Regions from separate parts of the Homo sapiens genome. Here region 1 is linked to region 2. Evidence: fine-mapped expression QTL. A gene starts in region 2. The other region holds a variant in brackets. All regions are shown on one strand. Distances are from middle to middle.

Region 1 (2,867 bases), 82 kb after region 2:
CAACCTCTTAAAGCACGGCCAGCACGCTGCCATACTGCCAGGAAACTGAGACAGGGCCCCACAGATTGACACAGGGACCTGGGCCCTCAGAGCACTGCCTCCCACCCTGATCATTGGCACTCTCCAAAAGGAACCTTTTTAAATATTTAGATTTTAAAACATCTGAAGCCAAAAAAGCTGAACACTGCAGGCCTCTCTGAGTGTGGAGAGAAAAGGGAGTGGGCGGGGGCAGGCAGTGGCCCCTCACCTTGGTCAGGTGGTGTGATGGTGATCATCTGGGCCGTGAACTCCTCATCAAAATACCTGGTGTCAGTCTCCGACGTGACCTGGGGCTTGAAGGGTGGGCTGAGCTGCAGAGGTGGGCAGACGGGACAGTCATGAGCTTCGCTCCCCACTCCCAGCACACCCTCAAGTGTGCTCAAGACCTTCAAAGCACCTGGATCTCCAAGGGGTCTCCAGGCAGGACTGATGTCAGAGAGCAGCAAGCCACCAGCCCCCCACAGAGGCAGCTCTGGGAGGGAGGGACATGAGGGGTGCAGGAGCACGGAGACAACCCTCAACAGCTGAGACGCAAAGCTGCCCTCACAGCAGCCCCAGCAGGCGACAGGAGGTAGTGCAGCCCAGCTCTGAGAGACCCTCCCTGCTACCAGGAGGTGATAACTTTATTTTTCCTTTTTCTTTCTTGTTTTCTTATTTTTCTTATTGGTCTTCTTGTAAATTGGGAAAGAGGGAGACTGTGGAACAAGGTGCACAGGATGAGCCCACCCTGCCTCCATGGCTCAGGGACTACAGGACCACAGCCTGCTGGCATCTGGCTGCAGACAGGACTCTCAATGACCCAGGATGAAGGGTGACTATAAGGTGATGTGCACACGTGAGGAGCTGCCAGAGAGCCCCTCAGGTCCCACAGTCAAGGACCCCCTCAAGCACTGCCCCACCCCAGAGTCTGGGCTGGGCACCAGCATTGTCCATTGTCAATTAGCAAGGTCTCTGGTCAAGGCTGGGCAGAGGTTGAGCACTGCCCAGGCCCCCCATACCCTTGGAGGGCAGGGCAGGAGGGTGGCAGGCCTCAAGGCAGGAACGGGGACCAGGACCAGGGCACCCTGTGTTAATGGGAGAACAGGTGCCCAGCTGGGTCCCAGGGCTGCCCAGCCCGACCAGCTGCACACAGCCTAGGACAGGCATTCAGGGGAGGGGCAGGCTGGGAACGGGGCAGAAGCACACCTGGTGACAGGGCACCCAGCATCTCAGAGTGCAGGCTTCCGAACCCAGCTGGCAGACCCCATCAGCT[G/A]GGGTGATGGCCAGGGCTCCTAGGGTCCCTGAAAGATGAGCACCCAGGATGGCGACTCATGCAGAAAGAGCTGCCTCCCTCCAGGGCGGACTCCCCCATGTGCCAGAAAAGTAGGTGCTGTCCCTGTCCCTGCACAGCCAGAAATAGGGCTGGGCTCTCCTTGCGGCAGAAGGGATTGAGGTCAAACAGGAGGAACTCGTGGAGGCCAAGGGGCAGCACCCCTGGTCCACCACCAGCCAGCCTTCACTGCACAGCGTCAGGGAAGGGAACCCCAAGGCTGGCACTCAGAGTGTGACACACCTCCGAGGGGAGGAGGAAACTCAGAGTGTGACACACCTCCGAGGGGAGGAGGAAATGAGGACCAGGCCAGTTTCCTGGTGGAACCCGGCAGTGCCAGAGCCTCTGAGCACCAGGCGCTGAGGTTGGTGCAGCAAGGCCCTCCTTGTACCAGGACTGCAGCAGGCTCCTGAGGTGAGGGCGAGTGTGTGGGAAATCTGGCGAGCGTGCCACGTGCATGCGTGAGTGTGGATATGTGGGGAGCATGCGTGCGCGTGAATATGCGGGGAGCAGCCGCACCTTCTTCTCGTACACGTGCTGCCACACGATACCGGCAAAGAAGCGATGCTGCATGATCTCCTTGGCGTCCTCGGAGCCCCCGCCAAGCCTGCAGGCAGGAAACAAGGCCACAGTGTCGGTACCGCCACCTGCCCAGGCCCTGGGTTCAGGCCCCTTCCTCCTGTGATGTAGGGCCCGCCAGACAGGACGTTCCGGGGCCAGGGAGGGGAGCCGGTGGTGCAGCGTCCCTGAGCAGCTGTGGGTAGCAAAGCACCACAGAGCTCACGGCAGGGCAGGGGCTTCCTGAGTGGGTGGGTGCAGGCTGCAGGGTTGGGGACAGAGGCCCAACTGACCCCGGCCTGCCCGCCACTCTGCTTGGGCCTGAGGCTTTGGAGATCAGCCCTGGCCAAGGACATCAAGCTTTGGCTATCAGTGTAGTCTGGGAGGTGCCAGGACCGCCTGGCGCAGGGGCAGGTGCAGCCTGGGGATGAGGGGATGGAGGTGTAGCCTGTAGCTGGGATGGGCGGCCCTCACCTCTGCTTGGGGTCCTTCTTGAGCAGCCCTGAAAGCAAGGACTTGGCCTCGGGACCAAGCGTGCGCGGGAAGCGGATCTCCTCCATGAGGATGAGCTCAAAAAGCTTCTCATGGTCCTGGTTGTAGAAGGGCAGGCGACCGCACATCATCTCGTACATGACCACGCCCAGCCCCCACCAGTCCACTGCACGGCCGTAGTCATTGTCCTCCAGCACCTGCACGGGTGGCAGATGGGCAGGACTCGGCATCAAGGGGTGTCCGGGACACTGCCGGGGGAGGTGTGACGTGCTTGGGGCACAGAGAGGACACAGCATTGCGTGTGCTCAGGACGTGGGGACGCAGCAACGCGTATGCACGCAGGTGGGGCGCACACCTCGGGGGCCAGGTACTCAGGTGTGCCGCAAAAGGTCTTCATGGTGGCACCGTCCTTGATCCCCTCCTTGCACAGCCCGAAGTCTGTGATCTTAATGTGCCCGTCCTTGTCCAG
Region 2 (2,896 bases):
CTGGGGCTGCTGGGCAGGGCAAGGTCCGCACAGGGAGCAGACAGACGCAGCCTGCAATTCGGCGCTTATCCCCACCGGAGCGGAGGCACACCAAAGCCAAAGGACACGCAGCTGGCCTCAAAGCAGAAGCTGCATCGGGGCTGGGAAGCCATTCAGGAGCCCTTTTCTCTCCCCTCGCCCTCACCCTGAGCCCTGGCCGCCACGGCCCACACAGCAGGCCCTCCGGAGAGAGATGTCAGGACTCCGAGTGGAGACACTTTATCCGCATGTTCTTGACCCTCATACAGCCCTTACGGGTACTTATTCTATTTTACAGATGGGGAAACTGAGGCTCCACAGAGTCATATCCGAGCCTGAGGCCGCACAGGGAGTGCTGGCGCCGGTTCTCAGGGCAGGGGTTGTGTCTGCTCTGTCACATGTCACACGGGGGCTCCCCCAGGCCTGCCTTCCTCTGCCCTCCCTCTAGCTGCCAGTGGCCCCCAAACCCCAGGCCTGGTGCGCTGCTTCCTGCAGCTCTGACTGAGGGTCAGACGTCAGAAGGGACTTCCAGAGCTGGGGTCTGGCTCTCATCCAACCAGGCTGGCTTTCAGAGCCGACTATGGGCACGCCCCATGCTGGTCAATGTCGGCGGTGGGGGGATGGGTGCCCCCCTCAATCTAGGAGACAGATGAGGCCGGACAGCAGAGGGGTGGCAGAGAAAACCCACCCCATTGCGACACCTCCGCGGCCCTCATGCAGCTGTCTCCACCAACCGGCGAAGTGCGGCTGCCCAAGACCGCCGAGACCCCATCAAGGGTGGAAGGGGGTCAGGCAGGGCTGCGGAGAGGAGGCCACATGGGTGGCCTGGTTGATGGGTAGGCTCTCTCTCCCCAAAGCCTGGGAAGAGCCATCTCTGCTGAGGGATCCCCGAACGCGGGGACTCCGGATCCGGCTGGCTGGAACGGGAGTCCCGGGCCGGGGCAGAGAGAGGTGAGCGGCGCCTGGGAGGCCAGTCCCACCGGAGGATAGGGGTGTAGGTGGACGGGAGGCGGTGGAGGGCAGGGACGGGGCGGACAGTGGGGGCTGAGGCGGGAGACGGCCCCGATCTGCGCGTCCCACCCCCATCTCCGCCCACCAGGAGCCAGGCCAGCAGGGACCGCGAGGGGGCGGCCAGGTTATTCACGGGAGTGGGGAGACCCCTTAAAGCGCCCTCAGGGACCGGCCACAGTGGGCGGGGCCACCCCCAGCCACCCACCTCCCCCCCCAGGCCCCGCCCCCGGCCCGCGCTCGCTCCCCACGTGGCCGCTGACGGGCGGGGCGGCACCTCCTCTTCCTCCCGCCCGCCCCGCCCGCCCCGCGCCCGCCAGGAGCCACCGTCCGAGCCTTGCGGAGCGCGGCAGTGGGCGCCGGCTGCCCGCAGCCCCTGACCCGGCCCCGGACGGAGCGCCGGCCGCACCACCGCCCTCTGGCCGTTGCCTCACCGGGTAAGTCCTTGGCCTCGGGGTCCGCTTGGAGCTTCAGGGGAAACTGAGTCCGGGAGGAGGCAGGGGCGTGCTTGGGTCCAGGAGCGAGGTTCCGGGCTGCGGCGTGTGTGCCCAGGTGGCGGCGGGCGGTCCGGCGGCGCAGGGTACAGTTCCCGGGCGGGGACCCCAGGGCGCCCCTGGCCCCCCCGGCTCCGCGCGCCCCGCTCGGGACTATGGTCCTCCGCGCCGAGGCACCGCCCGAGCGCGCACTGGCCGCAGAGTGGTGGGCCCAGGGTCGGCCGGGCCTACTCCCAGGGCAGGCGGGATTTCCGCGCCTCGCGGCTGCCACATCCTGACCATGAATCAGCCACAGTTGGGAAAATAAACTTCAACTTCGGGTCCGCCGCCCGGGTGGCACCCCGAGGTGCGCGCCGGCCTGCGGCCCCACCCTGACTGCTTGGCTTCCAGCTGCCCACGCGCAGGTGGGCGCACAGGGAGCCCTTCCCACCCCGCAACCGCTGGCAGGCTTAGGGGAATCAGCCTCCATCACAGCTCTCTGTTCCTTTTGGGTGGGGTAGGATCCAATCCCTGTACGCCCCCAGACCCACCCGTCAACCCTCTAACTGGGGAGTCGCCCCAGGAGTGACCATGACTAAGGAGGGGAAGGCGGGGTGACCAGCTGTGTCCCTGACCGTCCCCAATGCCCCCTGGGGAGCACAGGCGTGGGGGGTGGTCTGTCTGTCTGGGCCTTCTGGGGCTCAAGCTCCCCACCCAGGGCTCCCGCAGCTCAGCTGTGACCACAGCATTACTGCCCACTCCAGCTGGACACACCAGGAGGCAGAGAGGCAGAGACCCTGCCCAGGCAGGGAACCAGGAACCCAGGAACCGGGCCAGAGGTCAGGCACACCCAGAAGGCGCTGGACGTAGGAAATTCCCTTACTGCCAGCCCTGCCCCTCCGTCTGGCACTGGAATGGAGCAGGATACTCGCCCTCTTCCGGCCTCAGTTTCCACATCTGCACTCTGAAGGGTGGGACAGCAGCTCAGGCTGGGACCTGCTCCCTGCCGCCCTGCACTGGGAAGGTGGGGTCCCAGAGCAGTGCCTCAGACCCCGAGGGTGCCACCCAGCCAGGGGCTTTTGGGGTGTCGGTGCTCAGCCCCCAGTGCAGCAAATAGTAGCATTGGGTTCCAGGCCTGGGGTCTGAGACCTCACACTGCTCCCACCCCTACCAGGGCAGCAGCAATTTTCTGTTCTAAAAGCCAGGTTGGTGCAGTGGGCCCTGCCCAGGCCCTGCCCTCCCATCCCTGGACTGTCATGGGCCCTGCAGCCCGGCAAAGGGGATGTCGCTAGTGGGGACGGACCAAGTGGCCAGGTGCGACTGTAGCCTCCACAGCCAGGGCTCCTGAGTTAACCTTCAGGTGAGCGCCCACTTTGTGGAGGAGCTGACGGCTGTCA

What was found. PIP is the estimated chance that this variant, and not a neighbour inherited with it, causes the effect.
Region 1: its variant is fine-mapped to the expression of INF2 in whole blood (TOPMed, PIP 0.98).

Annotation. Positions count from the first base shown.
Region 1 is chr14:104,770,498-104,773,364 of GRCh38, forward strand. It overlaps AKT1 (AKT serine/threonine kinase 1), which reads right to left. Exons shown (of 15, transcript NM_001382430.1): 11 at 2,754-2,867; 12 at 2,381-2,595; 13 at 1,868-1,955; 14 at 248-350. Among named protein-coding and RNA genes, the nearest start is that of SIVA1, 19 kb to the left of the region's middle. The variant G/A (reference allele first, on the strand shown) is at 1,292.
Region 2 is chr14:104,688,277-104,691,172 of GRCh38, forward strand. INF2 (inverted formin 2) reads left to right here and starts at 1,342. Exons shown (of 23, transcript NM_022489.4): 1 at 1,342-1,463. RefSeq lists enhancers at 1-323, 324-1,313 and silencers at 1,006-1,265, 1,366-1,455, 1,476-1,715, 1,806-1,855.